Homo sapiens: one gene and its partner. Changing the gene in region 1 together with any one later gene gives a genetic interaction. Each region holds a gene or a part of one and is shown on either strand. Other genes may lie near its edges.

Region 1 (5,197 bases):
TAAACTGGGTTCCCAGGCTTACAAGGGCAATGACTGGGGATCTCATTCATTGTCATACTCTGTCTACACGAAATATTCAGCAGGTGTCAAGTCTGCCATTTTCCTTTAAATTAAGAACACAGTTATTTGGTTGGGCTGTATTTGATGGGGGTAGGGGTAAGGAAGGGGAAAAAAACTGAGGGAAAACTGTCCTCTCTTAAATACATAGGACATGAAGAGGAACTGAGTTTGCTTTCATTATAAACTCAAGCCTGCCTCAAAATACCAGATTCTTTTCCCATGTCCTTGTGCTTGCCAAACGCATGAATTTAGACTCACCCACAATGTAAAACTCCAAAACCTTCAATTTGGCCTAACTTAGAATTCATAAATTTGGCTAAGCAAATAATATGCAAGAGTGAATTGTGACATTGTATTTACCCTAACTATGGTGTTTCCAAATACATTTTAAAAGAGCACCTTAACAGTTTTCACTTCAGACAAATCAGATAATAAGGACACCCAGTTGAAGTCACTAATCTATGTTACTAGTTAATAATGGCCCTAGTACTAGAACCATTCAAATTACTTTCTTTAAATATTCAAATTAAACTACCATTCTCCTTAATACACTGATGTTCTCACAAACCAGTACAGCACAACTCAGTATAATTTATGTTTCTGTAGATTCTTTCAAGGGGCCCTATTACTTCACCACAACACTGTCTTAACCACATGAATTAGAGGTATGAACCCTAAGAGTAAGAATGCATTCAGTCTCCAATCTATACTGGATTAGTGCTACATTATAAATTTATTGAAGGTAAAGATCATTTTCTTCCTAGACAAAGCCTTATATTTAAGTTTTAAAGCCTCACAACTTAAACATGTGAAAATTATAAACAGTCCCTTCAACTGTATCATTGCTTAAAACTCCCAAAGTTCAGGAAAACAATAAATCACAGGTGGAACAGATTCAATATGAGAAAATGTAGTGGGAGTTGGAGAATACAGTTTTTCGAGGGCAGAGGGGGCTGGCTTGCCCTTTTTACTATTATGTACACTACTACTACGTTAAGATAACAAGCATGGTTTTTATGTTTCTTAAAACTATCTTCTAAAATATAACAGTAAAACAGAGTAAAAAGATACCTTAAGAGAAGCATGGAATGACCCACAACCCTCTTAATAAAGGAAGAAAATCACAATACTTAAGGAGAGACAACTGCATCAAATATTACCATGCGCTAAAATTAATCTAACAAACTATGTACACCTCTAGTTAATTGTTTTCCCAAACTTTAGGGGGAAAGATGTGAAACTCTCTAATTCAGCATAAACAGATCAATCCCATTTTTGCCTGAGCTTCCAAAGTTCTGACAGCCTAACTATTCCACTGTGTCAGGAACAGTGTGCAGTCTTAAAGTACTGCATCCACACAACCTGAACTTTCCTGCAATTCATGTTTTTGTTTTTAATTGTCCTAAACACTATCAAGGGAAAAAACAACATTGGGGTTTCAGGAAAGAACTACGGTTTGCCAGAGAGAACAAGATCTCTACAGGTATTATAAAGTCTCAATGATTCAACGTCTATAAAGTTTCTTTATATGCCACTATTTCTTAGTACCTTACCAGGTTACTTTGTTTTAGATGACCTGTACTATGGCCCAAAAATGTTAACTTTCAACAAGACTCATGGCCAGGCGCAGTGGCTCACACCTGTAATCCCAACACTTTGGGAGGCCAAGGTGGGCGGATCACCTGAGGTTGGGAGTTCGAGACCAGCCTGACCAACACGGTGAAACCCTGTCTCTAAAAAATTAGCCGGCGTGGTGGCACATGCCTGTAATCCCAGCTACTCGGGAGGCTGAGGCAGGAGAATCGCTTGAACCCAGAGGTAGAGGTCGCGGTGAGCCAATATCGCGCCAATGCACTCCAGCCTGGGCCACAAGAGCGAAACTCCGTCTCCAAAAAAAAAAAAAAAAGAAAAAAAGGATTCATGACCTAATTACTTCTACCTGCTTAGCCATCTGCGTGATCCATCTTTCCATCATGGTTTCAAGCAAGTCTTATTATTCTGTTGCTTTTTTTCCTACAGCAGTATTCAATGCTGTCACACAGGTTAACTCTCCCAGCTCTATTTGGAAGTCTGTATTAGACAGCAACAAGCAACAACAGACTTATCACTGACTACATTTCCCGGGTTTCTCCAGCAATACTAAAATCCCTTAGCCAAGAGTGCCTTCTTATGACAGGTCTGGCCTGGGGAGATAGAGATCCACCTGCCCACTGGCTGCACTCTGCTGGTCCTGCCTCTTAAAGTGCAAGGGACCTGAGGGACGACAGGCAGAAGGTCAAGTCTTACATCCATCCTCTCCCACCATCTACAGCAAACCAAGTAAGAAAGGTGTCAAGGGAGGTCCCAGGTCCCATGAGAACTAACCCAACAATTTCCCACCTTACTTGCCTGTCATGGACCATTAGAAATATAACAGAATTCTTAAGACACAAGAACTTCCTCTTTGACTTCAGAAGAGGAAAAAAACACGTACAACACATAAGTGTAAAGCGATAAATTCTAATCAACACTGCAGAAAGATATGTCATTTTAACACCAATAAGCTCAAACTAACTTTCTAAAAACATTTTCTAGGATAGGTTAGCTGACAGAAATCGCCCATATTAAGTTCTTAGCTTACATTCTATTAAACATTTCTAGAGCAAGCTGTTTACTGTAAGACAAAAAACAGTATATCTGGACCTAAACCTAACCGTGAAAAATGGGTCCACAGGCACCCTCTTAACCATTTTTCCAAAGAAATATGTTTAAACGGCTTTACCATGCAGAGCTATGGCTTCCCGGAAGGGTTGCAAATCAGTCTCTACAGATGAGCTAGTTTCCGTTGAAGTAGCTCGGTTAGGGGACACTACAGTCAGTCTTGGGGGAGCTCTAGAGTTTCGTGGTGGAGGAACTTTTCCACACAGGAAGCTGATCAAATCTTCTCGACGAATAGTTCTTCTGCGTTTTTTAACCCAAGCCAACACATCCTTATTGCGTCGCTGATAGCCAATCTGAATTCCAATATCAAAACTTCGTTGATGGGTATCCACGCTTTCTGTTAGAAAAAAAGAAAAAGAAAACATGTATCATGACCATTAGAGCCCGTATTCCCTTCTAAAGAAAACCATTTTACAATTTAACCAAAGTGAATACCATGATGTGGCCTCTGAGCCCATCAGTAATATAAACTGAAATGATTTCAGTCATAATGAAAATGTTATATGTAACATTTAATCTTAATGGTCTAAATTCAGTGTTTACTTATCACAGTCCTGGAGCTTGGCTTGTTAAAAAAAAAAATTTAACAGAAACAGAGAGATTAGGTATCTTTAATGAAATTACCTAAAATAACTTGCATCACATCATTCAACAGATGTCTAAATATTGCACATGCCTCAGGCCACGCTCATCTGCATTTACCACGTCATTGTGGAGATACATTCCTACTGACAGATTCAGCACCAAGAATGAGGAACAAGCTGAAGGCAGCAGCAAATGTTTTAGAAGGAAAAATTAATTCTGACTGATGGCTCAACACTAAAACCAAATAGCATGGTGGAAAACAAAAAGCTTTATTCATTTCCCTGGGTATACTCATTTTGCTTCCAGTTCTCAACAGCTTCCTGTAACTCAACCATTCCCAACAGATCTCCTAGACTAAATTCTCTGCATATACTCCACCTGGGTTTTGGTAAAATGATCTCTACCTTTTAGTGGTTTCATTTAGTTGAAAAAAAATTTGAAAATTTAAGTGACTATTATTTAGTTTTAATTGAGCTGCTGTGCCAGCAGAACATCACCAGTATGTCTTTAATGGCATTAACCAACATCGTTACTTTATCCTTGAACTTTCCGTAAAAGCAACAATACTGTGTACATTTCTCTATTACTTTTCCCGGCTTTGATTATTTCGTTTTATTTTATTTTTTGAGACGGAGTCTCTCTGTTGCCCAGGCTGTAGTGCGATGGCTCGATCTCAGCTCACTGCAACCTCCGCCTCCAGGGTTCTCCTGCTTCAGCCTCCTGAGTAGCTGGGATTACAGGCGCACGCCACCATGCCTGGCTAATTTTTCTATTTTTAGTAGAGACCGGGTTTCACCATATTGGTCAGGCTGGTCTTCAACTCCTGACCTTGTGATCCGCCTGCCTCAGCCTCCCAAAGTGCTGGGGATTACAGGCGTGAGCCACTGCAACCGGCGGCTTTAATTTCTTGTCTGCTACATCTACAGCAGACTCTCAAAGGATGGGCAATAGTCAAACAATGTAAAGCTATGTTCCAGAAAAAAAAAAAAAAAATCATCCAGACATCACAGAGGATGCCAAGCTGAATTTGCACTATTAAAGAAAATGGCAAGAGGGAAGCACAACAACCAGAACTTTATAATAAGGCCTACTCTTAAGCAGATGACAGTCTTTATTGCTAAAGACAAAGAAAAACAAGGATATTGTCCACAGATCTTTTCTCTTAAAAAAATAATCAAAGTAGGACCTGGGATGTTAAAAAGAAAGAAAAAATACTTTAAAATGAAAAGGACCAGGACAAGAATTCAACATCAATTTGGAAACCTGATATGCTATAGAGTGCATTCATATCTTCTCCATCACAACTCTGAGAAGGTGGATTATTCTAATTTTACAAATATAAAAAGCAGCTCAAGAGTGAAGTAACTTCTCCAGTGTCTCACTACTGGTATAACATGAATCAATAATTTTGATTTCTCACTTCTTCATAAACAAAGCATGAACTCCATTTTGAATGTAAATAACAGTAGAGAGGGTCACCACTTTTCCCATCTCTTTAGGAAAAGATTTAGATGAGCCAACCCTAAAGGGGTGGACAAACCTAAAGATGACCTTGTAGTGCTGTACCTAAAACTTAAATGATTCTGAAAGAGCTGGAGGCATTAAGAGAAATCAAGTCATTGACCAACTAAACTTATCACACCACATAAAGGATAAATGTAAAATGTGTTAACCTAGAAGCAATCAGGTTTTTAAACCTATCCTACCTAGAAGAATTGCTTTTAATCAAGCTTGTAAATGAAGAAGTTTCTGTTTCTGAAGAGAATGAGGGTATTTTATTCTTCAAAAGCCAAATGGAGGTAAGCCCAGCCCTGCAGAAACAGAGGAAAAAAAGTCTAAAGCATAGTAAAAG
Region 2 (5,197 bases), on another chromosome or scaffold:
TTACAGAGCCTCTTCTCACTCTCACAAAGTGCTGTCTTGGATGATAAGTTATATATCCTGTCTTCTCCAGCCCAGGACCCAGTGGACTGACACAAACTTGGGGTGGGGGGATGACATGGGAGGGGACAGAGAGAAGGAGAGTGAGAGTCAGAAACAGAAGGAGAGATGGGGTGCTGGGAGACAGAGTTGATGAAATGTGCTTTAATGCTTCACAATCAGAAACCACTGCTGAAAACTAGAATATCTGTAGGAGGAGAAATCCTCAAAAAAAGTGAACTTCTCAAGAAAATCCATGTCCAGCTCATCCCAAGCGCATGACTCCATGAGGGCTGATGAGTCATGACCCGCAGCCACAATGCACCATGCGTTCATCCCTCATGCAGCCATTAATCCATCCGCTCCTTCAATAGACACTACTTGGAAGTTACCCAGTCCCTGGTCCCATGGAAGAACTGGAGGGTGAGACTGGGCTCTGGGTACTTTCTAAAAGCCACTAACCCTGTGTCAACCCAGACCTCTGTCCTAAATGCCAGCCACTTACTAGACATCTCCTCTACATGGAAGTGTCCAGAAACTTTCGGCTCACCATGTTCAAAAAAATATCATCTCACCCAGCTCACTGCCCAAAGCTGCTCCCCCACCAACTTCCCAAAGGGCACCTGCTCAGAGAAAACTCTGAGCTGTTCTAGATTCTTTTCTCTCCTCCAGTGGCTGTCTCAGTCCCTCATCCCAGGTCCCTGGGCCAGCTCCTCCTTAACTTTGTTCCCATCTTTCATTTTTTCCATTGCCTCCACCTGGACTTACTCCAGCAGGGCTTTGCACCAGGCCTGAGTCTCTGTCCGGGCTTCCAGCACATCTTCCTGGCTGCAGCTGGGCCCTCCTCCATGCCACCATATAACAAAAAATATTCTCTCTCTCCCCTGCTTAGAACCCATCTGTAGGTGACCAGAAGTTTCAGGACAGATTTCAGACTCCTTTGCTTAACACAAGCCCCTCTGACTGTACATGCATAGAAACTACCTATCTCTCCAGCGCTTCCTTCCATATCGTCACATGAAACACTTGCTTCTGCCACACTGCATGTTTGTCAGCGGCAGGTTTTACCCATGATGCCTACATATACTAGGGTTCCCTCTGCATTCATGAGCTTCTCTTAGTCCTTCCGCACGTAGCCTGAGGCTCCCCTGCACCTCCTAGTGGCTATGCAGCCCTCTGCACCCCCAAGACACAAGGCAACACATGCTTAGCCTGCCATAGACCTCCCGGGACCCCCACCCCCACTGTGCAGCCACCACCTGGGACCTGCCTGTCTCCCCTGTAGACTGGGGGAGATTGTCCTACTTCTCTCTCCTTGACCCCCAGCACCTAGCCCATGGCCTCATGTTCAGTTATTTATTCATTCATTCAACACATATGCAAGTATCCACTTTGTCCCTGGCACTGTGCTAAGTGCTGTGCTACAGAAGTGAAAAGGAAGACCCTACCCGCCCGGAGCTTACATTTTAGAAAAAAACCCATGCAAAATAGACAAATCAATATATCGTATAGCATCAACTAGTGCAAAGAATTATAAAGAAAACTAAAGCCAAGCAAAGAGAAGAGAATGGTGGCTGGAGTCGAGAGGGGATTGTACCTTAAATAGGCCCTCCATGATGCAGTGGTGACACTGAAGCAGGGATTTGAAGGAAAAGAGGGTCGAGGCTTGCAGCTTTCTGGCAAAGAGCATTCCAATTACAGAAAACAGCAAGTGCAAAGGTCCCAAGGCAGGACCGTCCCTGAGGACGTGGGCTCTGTGCAGAAGAGCAGGGTACCTTGATGCCAGCAGGGAAGCCCAGAAACCTGGGACAAACCACGTGTGACCTCCCAAGTGACAGGGGCTGGAGGCCTCATTCTGAAAGTCAGGGGTATGCACTGAAGGGGTCTGAGTGGGGGTGGAACAGGATCTAATCCAGGCTATGCAGAGGCGAGCCCTACTCCCTTTGACGGCTGTAGCCTGTGGCCCTCACTCTTGTGACACCTGCCCACTGGTCCAGAGGAGGAGAGAGTGTAAGGAGGGGACCACGAGGTGCATTCTAGTCACCTAGAAAGCATGCCAGAGTGCAGAGAAGGCTGGGGATGACAGGCAAGGGAGTGGCACGGTCAAGACAGGAGAGAACACGATACCTCTCCCTGACTGTGTGGGCAGTGACCTTACCTTGGGGCTCTCTTCTTTAGCGGGATGGTGTCTAAACAGAGAAAGCCGGGCATTAGGAAGGGGGTCGTGTGACAAGAGGTGCAGAGCATTCCCTAGAGCTTTCACCTCCCTCTCCTTGGTCCTCTCACTCACGGTTGCCCTCGAGAGACCCGGGGCCTGGCTGCTATGTGATGAAGAGGCTGTTTCCTCCCCTTATTTGTGGGGATACACAAGGATAAGCAAACTCAAGGATAAGCAAACTCCCATGGCCTATTAAGCCCCTCGGGCGATGCACACGCCAGCATCTCGGAAGCCTCCTCCTCTCCCGGCCCAGACCAGCCCCTTCTGCTTATCTTCACGGATCATAATCACGTCTTCCAGGAAGGCAGTGAGGCTCTATTCTCCCCAGAAGCACCCCATGGAAAACTGCACCGTCATTGCAGTGAGCCATCTAATACAACAGAGGATGAGTCTGGGGATGATACCCTGAGAGAAGGGATGCAAATCAATACTGCACTTTGGGTGCCAAGGAGGCAGAGGGCTGTGCCATGGTGCATGTCAGCCAGCTCAGTTTCTCTCTGAGGGCCTACTCAGTACTGCTTTGAGAAGGACTTTCCCAATTTATGAAAAAAAATTCATCTTGACCCACAAAGGCAGTGTCAACAGAACCTCCCACCATCCGCCCACACTTAGGACCAACCTCGCTGCCTACTGGGACTGGGTTTATTTGATCTCATCATTTGGATGAGAGAACAGAAATTTCTGTGTGAAGCCAATTTTAGTTCCTCTCCCACCTTTCTCCAGGAAATGTGATTCTCAGGACTGCCAAGAGCAACTGAAAGGAAAAGTACAGAGGGAAAGAGACACAGAAAGACAGAGACATGGAAAGGGAGACAGAAAAAGGAACACAAATAGAGAGACAGAGAGAGATAGAGACAGAAGAAAGAGAAACAGAGGCAAAGGGTTAGTGAGAGAGACAGAAACATGCAGAGGTCACTGCCTTCCTTTACAGCCTGTTGGGCTCTGCGCTTGTGGGTTCATTCTTGCTGTAGCCAGCATCACAGAGTGGCCCTCGGTGCCTCGCTGGGTGGGGCAGAGCCAGGCCCGAGCACCACATCCCTCACCACTGAGGCCCCCAGGCGTGCTTTTCAGGTCGGAAGAGTCGTCGTCAAATAAGTGCCTCCTGATCATGCAGATCTTCAGGGCCAGGAAGCCAGCAGATATGGCGACACCCACAGCAGTCCCGATGAGGGCGTACTTGAAATCTGAAACGCAGGGAGGAATTGAACACCCGGTTTCAGTCACCTGCAGCTCCCTCTGCATTCCAGATGAGGTCCAAAGCATGCATGTGGCCCTTAACACACCACCTCCCACTGGCTGAGGCCAGCCTCACCTTCTACTCTCCCATGAGTCCCTTTGCTCCTAGCCTCTGCCTGCACCCCATCCCCTCCTTCAGCTGTAGAAACTGTTGCCACCTTTCAAGGCTCCCTGAAGCTCACCTGGCTACCCCTGCCCAAAAGGTGAGTGGCTCATTTCTCTGGCCACCTGAGCCTCCTAGCCCTTCCTCACTGATCCCTTCGTTAATTCATCCACTCATCTATTGGGTGTGTGTTAATTGCCTGCTCTGTGGTGAACACTGCAGGAGAATGGATAAGGCCTGTCTGGCCTTTGAGGAGCCTGCAGTCAGCTGGGGAGGACAGGGAAGGAGCTCATGACGGGAGAGGCTGGGTTGGCCTAGAGTCATGGGCGTCCAGAGCCTTCTCAGAGGGTGAGGCATGCAGACTGAGCCTGGCCAGCAGATGAGGCCCTTAAGGGGCAGACAGGCTGGAAGCTCGCAGGTGGAGGGAGGCACCGATGAGGGCTGTGAGCCTGGCAAAGCATGCTGTCAGGGCCCATGGCTGTGGGACAGGGCTCAGTGGGTGCTGGAGCCACGCATCTGTGGCCCTGAGGTATCACGTCCCCTGTGTGGACGAGCTTTAATGCAAGGCCTTTCCCCCGAAATAAAGCTGTCAGCTGCTCTGGGGGACCTGGAGGTGAGGGTGCCCCTTTTCCTATGCTGACAGCAGGGAACCAATTCCAGCACTGCGGCCCTCTGCTTGCTTGTCTTGGGAGCTTCCTTCCTGCCCCTGACCCTGTGCACAGAATAACATGGGCAGCCACGTACCAATTTCAGCCCCAGGGGTCTTGCCTGTTGCCAGCACTTGAGCTCCTCCTACATCTGCAAAGAAAGAAACCCCAGAGCCTGGTTAGAACAGAGCTGGCTGTGGTCCCAGCTACCCAGTCTCAGAGGCCTGGGAAAGCCTACCCCATGTACCCACCAGGAGCACAGAGGTGGGCTCCCAATTGCCATGGAGTGTCTTGGAGCCTTGCTGAGACATCAGAGCTTCCCTCAAAACTCAGACCAGGAACGCGTCTCCACCCAATGCACTTCAGTCAGCCGTTCAGCACAGTTTCCAAGACCTGAACTCTGACCCAAGCCTGCTCCACAAGCTCCCCTGTGGCTCCCAAGGCCCTCCTTAATCCAGCATGGCTTTGGTGCTTCTAGTTCCCCACACAGCCAGGGAATCTCCTGCCCTGCCTCAGGGCCACACCCTCTGCCTGACCCCATCTTCTTCCCTTCCTCCTTTACCTGGTCTTGGCTCCATGCCACTTCCTCCCTGACTCCCCAGACCTGGGTGAGCTGATCCCAGTGTGCTCCGTAGCCGTGGTGCTTGCCGGCCATAACTGACCATGTCAATATGTAACAACATTTACATAGCACTAGTTTGCTCCAGGCTCCATCCTAAAAGCTTCTCACATATTAACACATCAATACGTCTTCTGGCTGGTCTCGCTCTGGGCTGCGTGGTATAGTGTCCAGCATTTGATGCAGTGCTTGGCCCACAGGAGGCATTAATAGACATTGGTGAATGGAAGGAAGGAAGGAAGAAAGGAAGGAAGGAAGGAAGGGAGGGAGGGAGGGAGGGAGGGAGGGAGGGTGGGAAGGAAGGAAAGAAAGAAGGAAAGAGAGCATGCTGTAAGGGT

The links. Genes that interact genetically often act in the same process or in processes that back each other up.
Region 2: changes in HAPSTR1 (region 1) and TMEM273 together harm fitness less than expected from each alone (positive genetic interaction), as found in Homo sapiens cells (one large-scale study listed by BioGRID).

Annotation. Positions count from the first base shown.
Region 1 is NC_000016.10:9,100,884-9,106,080, reverse strand, and holds part of HAPSTR1 (HUWE1-associated protein modifying stress responses 1), read right to left. Parts: intron 5,157-5,197; exon of another isoform or gene 5,052-5,156; intron 3,098-5,051; coding exon 2,822-3,097; exon of another isoform or gene 1-2,821. UniProt on the Homo sapiens protein: Acts as a central player within a network of stress response pathways promoting cellular adaptability. The E3 ligase HUWE1 assists HAPSTR1 in controlling stress signaling and in turn, HUWE1 feeds back to promote the degradation of HAPSTR1.
Region 2 is NC_000010.11:49,163,572-49,168,768, forward strand, and holds part of TMEM273 (transmembrane protein 273 isoform 2 precursor), read right to left. Parts: intron 4,392-5,197; coding exon 4,338-4,391; intron 3,439-4,337; coding exon 3,298-3,438; intron 2,226-3,297; coding exon 2,195-2,225; intron 1,791-2,194; coding exon of another isoform or gene 1,713-1,790; coding exon 1,634-1,712; intron 1-1,633.